Regions from separate parts of the Homo sapiens genome. Here region 1 is linked to region 2. A link means that fine-mapping ties the variant in region 2 to the expression of a gene that starts in the linked region. Tissue or cell type: whole blood. Region 2 holds a variant in brackets; the other region holds the start of a gene. All regions are shown on one strand. Distances are from middle to middle.

Evidence for each region. PIP is the estimated chance that this variant, and not a neighbour inherited with it, causes the effect.
Region 1: it holds the start of ANP32A, and the variant in region 2 is fine-mapped to the expression of ANP32A in whole blood (INTERVAL, PIP 0.98).

The regions. Positions count from the first base shown.
Region 1 is chr15:68,817,782-68,825,881 of GRCh38, forward strand. ANP32A (acidic nuclear phosphoprotein 32 family member A) reads right to left here and starts at 3,114. Exons shown (of 7, transcript NM_006305.4): 1 at 2,917-3,114. The coding sequence starts at 2,970. RefSeq lists enhancers at 1-66, 1,231-1,812, 1,813-2,394, 5,676-6,476 and silencers at 1-135, 346-905, 956-1,195, 1,456-1,565, 3,066-3,315 and 2 more.
Region 2 is chr15:68,736,700-68,744,804 of GRCh38, forward strand. No RefSeq gene overlaps it. Among named protein-coding and RNA genes, the nearest start is that of MIR4312, 61 kb to the right of the region's middle. The variant T/C (reference allele first, on the strand shown) is at 4,544.

The DNA of each region.
Region 1 (8,100 bases), 81 kb after region 2:
CCATCGGGGCTCATAGCACAACTGGGGGTCCCCAAAGCCGGCTCCCCCTGCCTCCTCCGCGCGGGAGGCCGTCGGGGTGATGGCGCAAGACTCCGCTCCCCCCGCCCCCCACAGCGACAACAGCCACGGTGACAAAATGGCAGCCCGGCGCCCGGCAGTCGTGCCACAGGCGCGCAGGGCCCTGGAGGCGGCTCCTGCCCCCCAGTAACGCCTCGGCGCCCTTCGGGCTCAGCCCCGAGTGGGCCTAGCCGTTAAAAAAAATAAATAAATAAAAATAAATAAATAAAACACCTGGAACTCAAAACCAGCCTAGAAAGCCACAAGGCCGGCCCCGCGCGTACTGCACCCCCGCCGCCCGCCTGCCAGCGCCCCGCGCCACATGGAGCCCGGAGCCCGCATTCCGAGCCCTGCGCCCCGCGCCGGGGAGGAGGGGCGGGGCGTGCGGCGCGAGCCCCGGGAAACATGGCTGCTCGTCCTATTTCGGCGTCGCGGCATGGCCACCAGCTCCCGGAGCCCAGTTGGGAGAGGTGCCGAAGGTGGGTGTGTGGGGGGCCCAGGGGCAGCGCGGCGGGGAGGGGCGCAGGGGGCGCGCTCCGGGAGCCATTTGTCTTAAGAACGTTTAAAAAAATACAGTTCCTCCTCCCCCAACCCTTTTGTCCCTCTTTCGCTAGCTTTCTCCCCCTCCCCCGCAAATGTGCAGAAAGTGCCCCCTCCTCCGCCACCCGCGCCCCACCCCGCCTCCAGGCAGGGGGCAGGCGTGTGGGCCGCGAGGCTGGGAGGCGAGGGGGCGAAGCGTGAGAAATCGCTCCCAGTACGGCGCGGTGCGCTCCCCTCCCCAACACACACACACACTCGTGGAAGTTTAAAGAGCCGGTTCGACCCGCTTTCCTGCTTGCTCCCGGGGGGCCGGCAGCGTCGGTCGGGTTCGCCAGGCCAGCCGCGCCCCCGCACCCACCCGCGGCGACCCCGGCCCCGCGCTTGGCGCCCTTCCCCCTCCGCGCAGGGGGCTTCCGGAAAGTACGCGGGAAGACCGCGGCCCCGGCCCCCTCCCCCATCACCACACCCAGCCCCCAAACGCTAGGCGCCGGGTCCCGGCCGGGACGAAAGCGGCCGGAGAGAGGCAAACCGCCCGCAAATAGTGCGCGGAAACTCCGGCCTCCACCGGCGGCGCCCCCTCCTCTCCCGCGGCCGCCCCCTCCCCGCCCTGCGCGCCATAAGGCACTCGCACGTCTCCAGTCCACAGCTGCGTTAAGGCGGGGAGGGGGTAGACAAAAAGGATCTTGTTTTCAAAAGTCTCACTCAGGTTTGGGGGAGGAACTAGGGAAAAGAGGAAGCGAGGCCTGCCTTCGCCGGGATTCGGGTTTAACGGGCTAGAGGGGCGACAGGCCAGCGCACGGTGCTGCCCAAACTCCCAACTCCATGGAGCTCGGGCCACCGAGACTGGGGGCGTCCTCCCGCCAGCGCGTCCCCGGTCCCCCCAAGGGGCCAAGAGGGGAGCTGGCCAGGGTCTCCGCCCCAGAGCCGCCAACTCGCCGAAAACACTCAGGTTTGAAAGCGAGAGGGAGGCAGAAATAAAAACCAGCGTTCGAGTCACCCACCCTCACCTTCCCCCTCCTCAGGGGTAAGCTTTCGCTCGAGCCTCGCGATTCCCACCCGTGTAAGTTTCCTCCGGCCGTGCTCCCGCCGCTGCCCAATCAATAACGGCGGCTAGCGGGCAAACTCCCATCCTAGAGCTGCGTGTTTGCCATGCCCGCATAAACGTGGACCCAGCCAGTACCCACCACGGGCGCCAGCTCCGGGCAGCTCGCGTCCTGACAAAGTTTCCCGTGCCCATTTATTAAGCAGGCGCCGAATGGCTGCCGACAAGCCCAGCACTGAGAAAGACGGGCCGGGGGTTCGAGCTGGGGGGCACCAGGGCCCAAAGGCTGGCATCTTGGGGAAGCCGGAAGGAGCTGGGGCGAGGGGGCACCGGGACGTAGCCTTTGGGCAACTTGCACCAGCGATCGCTGGAGGCAGGGAGACGCGGGGATTATCTGTGCCTTAGCACGTTCGAAAATCCCTCCCCCTCCTTCTAATTTATCCTCCCTTCGGAAGGAAAGGAAGAAACATCAGCATCTGGCCCGAAGGTGGGGTGGAAAGAGTGAGGGAGAAAGAGGAGGAGAGGAAGGGAGGCAGAGAAAGGGAGGGAGGGAGAGAAAGGGCGCGTTCACGAACACTACAAAGTTACAAATATGGCTCCCCCGTCTCTCGCCTCATCACTGCAAAGAAATGAAGACGCACTTTAAACTCCAGCCATTCCCAACTCCGCTGCAGCCCCCTCCCCACGCGCTCTCCCCGGGGGCCTCGGCCCACATTTATCAGAAACTAAACCGGACTCGCGAAGCCCCAAACTTATTGTGTGTGCGAGCGAGCGAGCGAGAGAAAGGGAGGGGGGAGGCGCGGGAGGGGGGCGGAAGGGGGGATACATTTATAAAATGTAAAACCCCCTTTTTTTGTTGTTAAATCCAGGAGGCAGCCCCTCTCCTCCTCCTCCCTCGTTAATCTTCCCCCCAGACGGAGTCACGGGAGCAGCGATCTCCGAGGGTGATTTCGCCTCATTCTCTCCGACCCAAACGCGTGCGCCCGCCGGCCCCCGATGGGTGCACACTCGCACGCACACTCTCGCACCCACACTCGCACACGCGGGAGCACACGCACAGGTAGTCACACACCAAGGGCAGCGGCGGCGGCAGCCGGAACATGCTCGGATGGCATTGCAACCCCCCAGCCTTGCCAATTCGCTTGCAGTCCGACCCCCAAACCCGCACCTCCCGGGCGCCCCCCCCCAAAAAAAGTGCCTCCCCCCAGCGCGCACACACACACACACACACAAAGTAGGAGAATGGACCGACAGAGATATTTTTGGCAAATGCTCACATCAGAGGGCGTCCTGTTCCGCAGCTCTAAATGAATCCGTCTGCCCATCTCCATCTCTCGCGCTCTCTCTCTGCAGAGGCTCCCGCGCCGGCGGAATTCAATCAATAAACCCCGAACCCACGGCCGCGCGTTTTAGGACTTTGAAGGCTCAACCAGCTCCGCTCGGTTCTCGAGCCCCCAGCACCCGCGGCGCACACTAACCTGATCGCCGTGGAGGCGGGATCTGCGGCCCCATGGACGAGCGGCAGCGGCCCGAGCCAATCGCCGCCGAGGGTCTCCGGGCAACAGCCAATGGCAGTGGCGGCGGGGGGGGGAAGGGACCAATGGGCGGGCTGCGCAGCCGGCCAGGGAGGCTCGGCCATTTGGTAGTGGTGCCGGAGACGGACCCCTTTAGATTTCGGGGCGGCTGAGGAGCGCGGCGGCTGCTCTGTGGCTGAGTGAGGGGGGTGGGCGGAATGGCGGGGGAAGGGAAGGTGACTGTGCCTCGAGGGCCGAGCCGCCCGGCCTTGCCAGCCAGCCGCCGCCTCAGCGTTCGGCCGGGGGCGGGGCCGCAGGTGCGTTCTGCGAGGGGGAGGGGCGCGGCCGGAGGGGTCGGGTCGGGGTCCCCGCCCGGCCGAGGGCTTCGCGGGGCGGCGCGACGGGGTTGCGGAAGGAGGCGGGCGGCTTGAGGTCCGGGGACCGCGGGCTGCCCAGCGGGAGGGCAGATGAAAGGCCTGGAAGGAGGAGAGGGGTCAGGGTGCAATGCCGGGAGGGGCTCGTCGGGTCCCGGGTCCGGCGGCTCGCGCTGGGGAGCGTGGCTGCCCCCGTCACCCCCACCGCGGCTGCCCAGCAGCCCGCGCGCCCCTTCCCCTCCGGCCTCGTCCCTGTCAGGCCGCCACCATCGCCACCCTCGTATACATAAGTCAGTAAAAGCAAGATGCTTCCACTTTTGGATGACTTACCGCGCGGTCGCGACCCTTCCCACGAAGAGGCTTTTCACTTTGCTGTCATATTAGGTCAGCTTGGAAGAAGTGATCACCAAGAGACACCCAAGATCTTGTTTAGGCAATAAATGAATGAAGACCATGGATTAAGAACCGTTGCTAGATATGTAGAATATTAAAAGGTGGAAAAGGAAGGTGCTCATAACTCCTGGTTTTCTGGACCAAACATAATTTCTGGGCTTTATAGACCTAGTGAAAGAGAACGGCGCACGGTTTATTCTAATCGTCCACCTGAGTCATTCGGTTCGGTTTGGGTTGCCAAGGAGGCTCTAACTGGAGCCCTTTCTCCTGGTTTTTCGGCGTGGTTGCCTTGGGTATTTTTGAATCACATTAAGTTTTAAGAGACCTTAAAGCCCCGATGCCCACTGGGTTACCGACTTACGGCACTAAGTTGGCTGCCTGTGGCTGTTAATAAACCACGGGGATTGTTGTCAACGAGGACAGATACATCCTTACCTTTCCACACGACTGTATTTTAGTGTTTGTTTCTACATGTCTGCACTCTTCCCCACACGCCTCAAGGTAGTTTTTCTGGATACATATGTTTATTTTTCAGGAACAGGAGTTCAAAGGAGAGATAAGCCAGTATGTATGTTGCAAAGTTAAAATACTGTTGCATAATAGCAATCCAGTTTCATTCTTAGACATACGAAGTTGAGGAGGAAATAAAAAGTGACAATGTAAATAAAACACATACAGAATGCTTACACTGGGGAAGAAGCTGTAGTAACTTTAATATTGCAACCTGATGGATTGCAAGTGTAAAGCCCTGCAACTAAGGATTTTACTCAGTAAATTCTTTCAGATAAAATGATAAATGGAATTTGAAGTCTGATGTTTACTCTGATTAGGTGGGAAATGCACCATAAAAGTTAGAAGTCATTGTTTTATTTTATCTGGGTATAAATAGTATAATTTATTTAACTTGTTGACTTGCCTGTCATCCTCAGATTTTGTTAATCTTATTGAAGCCTATTTGTATAGTTGGAATTTATTCTAAGTTTTATTGGCTTCTTTGTAATACATGAGGAACCCCAAATTTCCTATTTATGCCATTGAGACAGTTGTTATTTCTGGATATGGTGTTTAGGATTGTATTCAAACAGAACTCTTATCAAAACAGGTCAATATGGTGTGTATGATCTGTGTAACATAGGAGTCCTGAAGTTTGTGTTCTCTTTGATGGTAAATGTTCATTTTCAATTTAAAAGTTTAACCACAGTTAAGACCACGCTGCTAGCAATGCAATATGAGACAGTGTCTTTCCAGAGGAGTAATCCCTTAAAAACCAACCAATCAAATGCAGAGATATGCCCCATCCAGCTTTGCTAAATAGAAGCAAATAGCTCACTTTATTGTACAAAGACTCAAGAGGAAGACTTAGAAGCCCACCCCCTCCCCCATTAAAGAGAAAGTACAGAAACAAATTAGAATCGAAAAAATCATGGCCTGATTACTAAATCAAAACGTTAAATGTGACAGTTGTTTTTAGAAGCATCTTACATTTATACATTTTGATGACTTTTGTATTAATGTTAGAAAATTGAAAGAAGGCTTCACTGGATGTCAGTCGTTACAGAAATTGAAATATCCAAAAGTATATGTATAACCAATTGAGTAATTTCCGCTTTCCTTACACACTTGAAATAAATTTTCTTTTGCTTTTACAAATAGATCTATATGTAAGAAAATTTTCATATGATTTTGCTTTTTTATTATTAAAAAAGGAATATAGTAAAGCCAAAGCTGAGCTGTATTTGCCCCACACAACATGACCAAATATAAAAAAAACCACTGCTCTTACAAATATCTTATTTTACAAAGTTGTTTTTTAAATTACATTTTATTGTATATTATAATAGTAAATAAGTGTTCTAAGTGGCACTGCATTTCAGAAAATATAGAAAGAAATCCCATATCAAGGAATCTTGGCTGAATTTTGAAACGGAGTTGGGAACAGGTAAGAGTTCCTATCTACTGAGTAATTCTACAACAGGAATTGTGTTTGAAAGATGTAGAGTCTCTAACCTCTGAAACTAGGTTTGAGTCACACTGAGAAGAATAAATGAGATACAATTCAAAGTTTAACCCCCTAGAGAGATAGATGGCCCAGGAAGGAAAGATCTTCCCGCCTTCCAGAATATCCTCCATCAAGAACCATTCCAAATAAATGAGCAGCCTATTTTGTTCTCAAAGACATGAACAATGAGTGTCCTTAGGCTCTTTTGAAATGTGTAGGAGAGTACTGTTTTACAAATAACCATATCGTTACTATTGCCATTTTATTAGGTTGGTGCAAAAGTAATTACCATTTTTTTTAAAAAAGGCAAAACCACAATTACTTTTGCACCAATAGCACATTTGCCCTTGTTTGGTCTCTAAAGATGGAGACCCTTTGGTTAGCATCCTTTTTATGAGTCAAGCTAATATACCCACAGCTCAACTTTTTGTTCTTGAGCTTGAATCACATCACTGGCAATCGGCCGTAGTACTCTCTTACCTACATCATGGTTCTGCTGCTTGGACCCCAAAGACAATGACATGGAAAAACTCCAGCTTAATTATGTTCTTTTTTGTTTGTATATGTAAATAGTTTTTAGGAATGTAGATTATTATTTTGAAATCTGTGGTAACAAATGTGAAAACCACTACATTTTATTTATTTTCATTGAATAGCAAATAATGTTGAAGCCTGGGATCTAAAAAGTTAAATATTATTTTATTTTGCTTAATAAAGTATTGGATAATTTAGAAAAAGAATTTTTTTTTAATGATTGGATAGTTACCTTATTAATGGATTGGTCAGGGAGAAAAAGCCCTGTTGGATGAAAACTGTCATATATGTGACTTTTAAAGTGAAATTAATAAGCCAGGCATGGTGATGTTCCCCTGTAGGCCCAGCTACTTGGGAGGCTGAAGTGAAAGGATCACTTGAGCCCAAGAGTTCAAGAACAGCTCGGACAACATAGCAAGACCTGTTTCTCTAAAAACAAAAAACAGTAAAAATCTTAAAAACCGCTTAAAGATGGTTGGTTTCTTTTAAAAAGGAAAAAAAGGCTCAGGTGCAGTGGCTCACGCCTGTAATCCCAACACTTTGGGAAGCTGCAGGCAGATAGCTTGAGCTCAGGAGTTCGAGACCAGCCTGGGCAACATGGTGAAACCCCATCTTTACCAAAAATGAAAAAAAAAAAAAAAAATTAGCCTGGCATGGTGGCGTGCACCTGTGGTCCCAGCTACAATAGAGGCTGAGGTGGGAGGATCCCTTGAGCCCGGGAGGTGGAGATTGCAGTGAGTAGAGATCACGCCTCGGCACTCCAGCCTGGGCAACATAGCCAGATACTGTCTCATTAAAAAAAAAAAAAAAAAGGCCGGGCGCGGTGGCTCATGCCTGTAATCCCAGCACTTTGGGAGGCCGAGGTGGGCGGATCACGTGGTCAGGAGATGGAGACCATCCTGGCTAACACGGTGAAACCCCGTCTCTATTAAAAATACAAAAAATTAGCCGGGTGAGGTGGCGCACGCCTGTAGTCCCAGCTACTCGGGAGGCTGAGGCAGGAGAATGGCGTGAACCCGGAAGGCGGAGCTTGCAGTGAGCAGAGATCACTCCATTGCACTCCAGCCTGGGCGACAGAACGAGACTCCGTCTCAAAAAAAAAAAAAAAAAAAAGCCAGGTATGGTGGCTCACGCCTGTAATCCCAGCACTTTGGGAGGCCAAGGCGGGTGGATCACCTGAAGTCAGGAGTTCGAGACCAGCCTGGCCAACATGGTGAAATGCCATCTCTACTAAAAATACAAAAAAAAAAAAAAAAAAAAAAAGCCGGGCTTCGTGGCACGTGCCTATAATCCCAGCTACTCGGGAGGCAGAGGCGGGAGACTTACTTGAACCCGGGAGGCAGAGGTTGCCATGTGCCAAAATCGCACCATTGCACTCCAGCCTGGGCAACAAGAGTGAAACTCCATCTCAAAAAAAAAAAAAAAAAAATCACTTGCACACTTGTTTGGAAGTCTCTAGAAATTTTGTGAATCGGTTTCTTAAATATATTTATTAAAGACAGTTTTGAAGTAGCAATGAGGGAAGTTTGTTTACCATTCATCAGGAAGAAAACCAGAGCTGTAAGCTCTTACTTTTAGTATTAAAATATGGCTGTGAAGGAAAAAAATAAATGCCTTAAAGACAAATAATGGAATGAGGAGCTATAG
Region 2 (8,105 bases):
ATGATATGCAAATCAAATCACAGTCACTCCCCTACTTAAATCCTTGGTGGTTCCCCATTACCCTAATGGAAAGTAGAAATTTTTTTTTTTTTTGGAAATTTTTTAACTTCTTTCTTTTTTGGCGTGGTCCTCTAATCTCTGAGACCTCATCTCTTGCCATTTGCTGCCTGAAACTCTCTGCTCCTTATAGACTGTGGTAATAATAAAATAAATACTTGGCCTTTGTTTCTGGTTCTCGGCACAGAGCTCCTAAAATGCTGGGAATTTCCTGAAAGATAGGAATATCTTTTGTAATTTATTAGGAGCCCCTTTCCATCATACTTGAGTTTATGCTAATGAGGTGAGTTACGGTAGCATCTCAGGATGGGACTGGCACCAGAAAGACCAAGTAATAAGAGGATGGAAACTTGGCTAGGTGCAGTGGCTCACACCTGTAATCCTAACACTTTGGGAGGCTGAGGTGGACAGATCACTTGAGCCCAGGGGTTTGAGACAAGTCTGTGCAACATGGCAAAAACCCATCTCTGCAGAAGAATACAAAAATTAGGCTGCGTGTGGTGGCTCACACCTGTAATCCCAGCACTTTGGGAGGCCGAGGCAGGCAGATCACGAGGTCAGGAGTTCGAGACCATCCTGGCTAACATGGTAAAACCCCGTCTCTACTAAAAATACAAAAAATTAGCCAGGCAAGGTGGCGGGCGCCTGTAGTCCCAGCTACTCAGGAGGCTGAGGCAGGAGAATGGCATGAACCCGGAAAGTGGAGCTTGCAGTGTGCCGAGATCATGCCACTGCACTCCAGCCTGGGTGACGGGGGGAGACTCGTCTCAAAAAAAAAAGAATACAAAAATTAATCGGGCGTGCTGGTGCACACCTGTAGTCCTAGCTATTTGGGAGGCTGAGAGATAAGAAGATCGCTTGAGCCCAGGAGGTCAAGGCTGCAGTGAGCTGTGATCGTCCAGCCTGGCAACAGAGTATGACCCTGTAAAAGAGGATGGAAACTTTTCATTGGAATAACATACAAGAAAAAAAAAAGAGGGTGGAAACTTTCAGCCCCACCCATTGACCTCAAAGTTGGGGAGGGGGGACTGGAGATAGAGCTATATAAAACTTTTGTTACTATTTTTATTTTATTTATCTATTTTTTTTGAGACAGAGTCTCACTCTGTTGCCCAGGCTGGAGTGCAGTGGTGTGATCTTGGTTCACTGCAACCTCCGCCTCCTGGGTTCAAGCAATTCTCCCACATCAGCTTCTGTAATAGCTGGGATTACAGGCACACACCACCACACCCGGCTAATTTTTGAATTTTTACTAGAGACAGGGTTTCACTATGCTAGCCAGGCTAGTCTTGAATGCCTAACTTTAAGTGAACTGCACACCTGGGCCTCCCAAAGTGCTGAGATTACAGGTGTGAGCCACCACACCCAGCCTTAATTTTTTTTAGAGACAGGGTCTCACTCTGTCACCCAGGCTGTAGTGCAGTGGCATGATCATAGCTCACTCTTAGCCTCATTGAACTCTGGGACTCAAGAGATCCTCCCACCTCAGCCTCCTGAGTACCTGGAACTACAGTTATATGCCACCACACTCGGCTAATATTTTTACTTTTATTTATGTATTTATGTATTTATTTATTTATTTATTTATTTTTGTGATGGAGTTTCACTCTTGTTGCCCAGGCTGGAGTGCAATGGCATGATCTTAGCTCACCACAACCTCCACCTCTGGGATTCAAGTGATTCTCCTGCCTCCACCTCCCAAGTAGCTGGGATTACAGGCATCCGCCACCATGCCCGGCTAATTTTTTGTATTTTTCTCCATGTTGGTCAGGCTGGTCTCAAACTCCCTACCTTAGGTAATCCACCCAATTCAGCCTCCCAAAGTGCTGGGATTACAGGCATGAGCCACTGCGCCCAGCCTACTTTTATTTTTTTATAGAGACAGGGTCTCACTGTGATGCCCAGGTTGGTCTTGAACTCCTTGCCTCAAGTGAACCTCCCACCTTGGCCTCATAAAGTGCTGGGATTACAAGCATGAGCCACTGCCCTATACACCTTTTTATTTTTTTGAGATGAAGTCTCGCTGTGTCACCCAGGCTGGAGTACAGTGGCACGATCTCAGCTCACTGCAACATCCACCTCCTGGGCTCAAGAGTTTCTGATGCCTCAGCCTCCCAAGTAGCTGGGATTATGGGCGTCCGCCATCATGCCTGGCTAATTTTTATATTTTTAGTAGACACAAGGTTTTGCCATGTTGGCCAGGCTGGTCTTGAACTACTGACCTCAAGTGATCTGCCTGCCTCGGCCTCCCAAAGTGCTAGGATTACAGGTGTGAACCGCCTCGCCCGGCCTCTATATAACTTTTGAACAGAAAGTTTCTGAGAGCTTCTGAGTTGGTGAATGCACCCCAACTACCCAGGGCCAGAAGCTCCCGCACTCAGGACCCTTGCAGACCTGGCCTATGTACCTTCTCATCTGGCTGTTCATTTGTATGCTTTAGGATATCCTTTATAACAAACACTTACTTAAAACTATAAGTAAAGTGCCTTTCTGAGTTCTGCAAGCCATTCTAGCAAATTAACAAACCTGAGGAGGGGTTCATGGGAAGCCCTGATTTACAGCCAGTTGGTCAGAAGTACAGGTGGTCTGAGATTTGGGACTGGCGTCTGAAGTGGGGGCAGTCTTATGCAACTGAGCCCTTAAGCTGTGGGGTCCACACTAACTCTGGGTAGTTAGTGTCAGAATTGAATTGAATTGCTAGGTACCCAGCTGGTGTCGGGGAATTGGTTGATGTCAAAAAACATCCCAGACAGACCTACTTTTTGTTTTCGTTTGCTTTTCTGATTTCCTGAGCTGTGTCCAGGGACTGTCTTGCCTCCTGGTCTTCGTATAGCACATTCCTTCTGCATGGATCACCTGCCTACTCTCTTGGTCTGGCAAATTTCATCTTATCTTTCAGGTCTCAGGTTCAGTGCCACCTCCCAAGAAACATCCTTTACATCACTAGAATAGGTCAGAACCTACACCTCAGTAATCCCATAGCATCCTCGATTTCCCCATCCCAACATTCATCACACTTCACCATTGTTACTGATATAATCATCTGTATTCCCCAACAGTGAAGGCAGCTCTGTAAGCCATTGAGAGATGGACCATGTCTGTCCTGTTCTCCATTGTATCCAGCATCTGGCACAGTGCCTAGTAGGTCATAGGCACTCAGTAAGTATGTACTGAGTTCAGAATGAATGAATAAATGAATGTCGTAGGAATTCAGAAGAAACAAGAGATTAATATAGACTGAGGAAAGAGGTAGGCTAGGACTTGAATAACAAGTAGAGGAGCTTCCACTGTCACCTAATACATTAGGGACAAACCACGTCTTCCTACCTCCAACCCAGGAGGCAACTACAAAAACAGAAAGAGCATTGAACTACGAGACCGAAGAACAAGCTCCGGTCCTGCCTCTGTGCCTCAGTGTGTAACTTTGAACATATCATTCAACTTCTGAGCCTGAGTTTCCTCGTCTGTAAAATGAAGCCGCTATAGCCCACCTAGAGGGGTTTCTCTGAGGTTTGGTGAGGTCCTGAATGTAGTAGACCCCCGCACAAAGTAGACCTGACCAGATGTGTGTGGATTTATTTTCAGCCACATAGCCTCTGTCTCTAAGATTTCCCAAAGCACTGGCTGAAAGCCCACCTGAGAAAAGCCTGCATCTGTCAACCCAGCTTCCTGGACCTGAGCACACTCATTCTGCCCAGGCTGATGTGCCATCTTGCCCCTCTTCCCCAACACCAGCACACAGCACCCAAAGCCTTCCTCACACCCAAGAGAACCACGCTCTGAGGACTACCACCTGCAAGAGCCGAAGACTTGAAGGCATTTACCTCCCACAAGGGGGTAACATACTTTCCTCTATCAATTTCTGAGTAAAGAATATTTTCAGGGCCGGGCACAGTGGTTCACGCTTATAATCCCAGCACTTTGGGAGTCCAATGTGGGCAGATCACCTGAGGTCAGGAGTTTGAGACCAGCTTGGCCAACATGGTAAAACCCCACCTCTACTAAAAATACAAAAATTAGCCAGGTGTGGTGGTGGTCACCTGTAATCTCAGCTACTTGGGAGGCTGAGGCAGGAGAATCGCTTGAACCTGGGAGGTACAGGTTGCAGTGAGTCGAGATCATGCCACTGCACTCCAGCCTGGGCGACAGAGCGAGACTCTGTCTCAAAAAAAAAAAAAAGAAAAGAAAAAGAAAATTTTCAAAATGAAATTCTCCAGAATTTTTACTCTCCACTTTAATTCCTGGTGTCAGACAGCAGGACCCTCACGTTCCCCTGGCAACAGAGTTTATTAGGCACCCACAGTGCCAGGGCTGTGCTGGCACCCCAACTCCTCATGGAGATTACAAACTAGCTGGGGGGGGGGGTGTGGCAGGCCCCCAACAATGCCCATGCACTTATCCCTGAAACCTGTGAATTTATCTGTTACACGGCAAAAAGGGTCTTTGTGGATATAATTGAGGTTTTGAACCTTAAAATAGAGCCATG[T/C]CCTGCTTTGCTCAGGTGGGGTCAATCTGGGGTCAATCAGATCACATGAGCCCTTAAAAGCAGAGAACTTTGTGTAGCTGGAATCAGAGACTCAAGTCAGTGGGTGGGTGAGGTGGCTTACACCTACAATCCCAGCACTTTGGGAGGCCAAGGTAGGTGGATCACTTGAGGCCAGGAGTTCGAGACCAGCCTGCCCAACATGGCAAAACCCCGTCTCTACCAAAAATACAAAAATTAGCCAGGCGTAGTGGCACATGCCTGTAGTTTCAGCTACTCAGGAGGCTGAGTTGAGGCAGGAGAATCGCCTGAACCCAGGAGGCAGAGATTGCAGTGAGCTAATATAGTGCCACTGCACTCCAGCCTGGGTAACAGAGTGAGACTCCATCTCAACAAAAAAAAAAAAAAAAAAGAAGAAGAAGAAAAAGGAGGTGGAGGAGGAGGAAACCAGAGATTCAGAGCATGAGGGGTACTCAACTCACTATTGCTGGGATGGGTGGGGACATGAAAAATGTGAGAAAGAATGAAGGCAGCCTCTAGGAGTAAAGATACCCCCAGCTGACCACCAGGGAGGAAACAGGATCCTCAGTCCTACAACCACAAGAAACTGAGTTCTACCAACCCGAGTGAGCTTGGAAGTAGATTCTCCCCTAGAACCTCCAGATAAAAGCCTAGTCCTGCTGACACTTTGGTTTCAGCCTTATGAGACCCCTAAACAGAAAACCCAGCCTAGCTTCCCTAGGTACAGGTTGAACCTGGGAGGTACAGGTTGCAGTGAGTCGAGATCATGCCACTGCACTCCAGCCTGGGCGACAGAGCGAGACTCTGTCTCAAAAAAAAAAAAAAGAAAAGAAAAGAAAAAGAAAAAGAATATTTTCAAAATTAAATTCTCCAGAATTTTTACTCTCCACTTTAATTCCTGGTGTCAGACAGCAGGACCCCCAAGTTCCCCTGTCAACAGAGTTTATTGACCCATAGAGCTGCCCGAGATTGCGCCATTGCACATTGCACTCCAGCCTGGGCAACAAGAGCGAAACTCCAGCACAAAAAAAAAAAAAAAAAAAGTCAGAATGGAGGCATAGGAAGGGAAATAGAAAGGGGATGGCTTTGAGTCAGACACAGCTGGGTACTAACCCTTCCTCCAGCAGCTTGCACAGGTTTCTTTAGCTTTCTGAGATTTAGTTTCAAACCCAAAAAATAAAGAGATGATAAAAAGGACCTATATCACAAAGGGCTGTGAAGAAACAGAAGGCAGGTTATTTATTGATCATCACACCACATGAGGAAAAATACATTCCATACTATATTTTCCAATTCAAAAGCCCTGATTTTTCCCACTTTAACATCTTCGAATCATTCAACCATGCAGCAGTCCTGAGATACTTCTATTGCTTGCACTTGCAAAATCAGTGTTACTGGTTAGGAAGAAAATTCCAAAAGCAAAAATGAAGCATCCTATTAAGAAATGCTGGCCGGGCACAGTGGCTCAAGTCTGCAATCCCAGCACTTTGGGAGGTTGAAGTGAGCAGATCACTTGAGGTCAGGAGTTCAAGACCAGCCTGGCCAACATGGTGAAACCCCCATCTCCACTAAAAATACAAAAAAAAAAAATTAGCCAGGTGTAGTGGCACACGCCTATAATCCCAGCTACTCGGGAGGCTGAGGGGGGAGAATCGCTTGAACCTGGGAGGCAGAGGTTGCAGGAAGCCAAATCTCGCCACTGTGCTCCAGCCTGGGCAACAGAGCGAGATTCAGTCTTAAAAAAAAAAAAAAAACAAATGAAATGCTGCCTCTTCAACCTCTTGCTAACACTGAGTACAATCTTGTATCAAAAAACACAGACATCAATGATGCTGAGCCATGGTGATGCAGAAGAGCCAGAATCTAATTGTGGAGAAGTCTTAGGAGTGTCATAACCAATTTATTTTGCCTATATTTGTTTTTTATGTGCACACAAGAGAGACATAGGATAAAAGAAAATCTGTCTAAATAAGTCTAAAAGAGCCCTTCAATAAGTACAAAAACTTCTTAAAAATTTCAAGTGATAAAAAGATGCTGAGAAAATACAGGCATTATTTATTATGCCCAGCTGACTTCCAGGAAAATCAAGGTCTAGGGAATATTCACAGTGTGGCCAAGGCCTTACAGCAACAAACAGCTGAACTGAGAAAAATGAAGCAAATGGTCTCAGGCCTACCACAGAGGCCAGTTTGGTGTGGCTGGCATCTATCAGCTGTGTCCTAAATTCTTCACAAGGAGCCTGAGAAATGTGACCTTAGCCCACCAGAGGTATTACACTTCAGTTTTGTCCGCTGAGATTATGCGTTTGCACATACACACAACATTCAAAGCAGAGGAATTGGTTGAGAAATGTAAAAACACTAGGAAGAACAACATTCCGAGGAAAATAATAAAGCCACTTGCATTTGTCCCTCAAGGGCAAAGGTTGAGCAGATATGTTTGCAGGCCCTTATAAAAGATTGGGGTTTCCTAAGCCCAGGGTTCATTGGCTGGAATGCAAATTCACTGTATGCATAGCATCCACTGACTACTGTGGTATGAGTTATAAGGTTCTTTGTCTTTGACCCAGGATGCACAAGTTCAGAGTCTTTCTTTTTTTTTTCTTTACTTTTTATACCATCAATAGAGGCAGACAAAAAAATCTTGAGTCTTCTACTAGCATCAAATTGTGGCAGGCTAATTTGTATGCTTGCAAGTACAGTATTACCTCAGAACCTTCATGGTTCTTGTTAACTACGTGAAGTTTTCTTTTTGTTTGTTTATTTCTTTTTTTTTTTTTTTTCTGAGACAGAGTCTCACTCTGTCGCCCAGGCTGGAACGCAGTGGCACAATCTCGGCTCACTGCAACTTCCACCTCCTGGGTTCAAGTGATTCTCGTGTCTCAGCCTCCCAAGGAGCTGGGATTACAGGTGTGCACCACCACGCCCAGCTAGTTTTTGTATTTTTAGTAGAGATTGGGTTTCGCCATGTTGACCAGGCTAGTCTCAAAATCCTGACCTCAAGTGATCCGCCTGCCTCGGCCTCCCAAAGTGTGGAATTACAGGTGTGAGCCACTACACCTGGCCTATGTGAAGTTTGATACCATTATTTGGAGTTAGACTGTGATAATTTAAAGATGTATATGGTAAACTCTAGAGCAATCATTCAAAAGTAAAATATAGATAGAGCTAATAAGCCAAAAGTAGGGATAAAATGAAATCATTAAAGTATTTTATGAATTAAAAAGGAAGTCAAAAAAAAGGAAAAAGGGACAAAGAATAGTAGGGACAAATAGAAAACAAATAGCAAAATGGTGTATTTAAATACAACCATATTTATAGTTACATTAAATAAAAGTGGCCCAAACTCTCCAATTAAAAGGCAGAAATGTCAGATTGTATAAAAATCTACCTGAATAAGCTCTAAATATACTGCATAGGTAGGTTAAGAGTAAAAGAATAGAAAAAATATATATGAAGCAAACACTAATCATGAAAAAAGCTGAAATGGATGTATCGATTTGTGCACAGTGAACTTTAGGAGAAAGGATTATAAGCAGAAATAG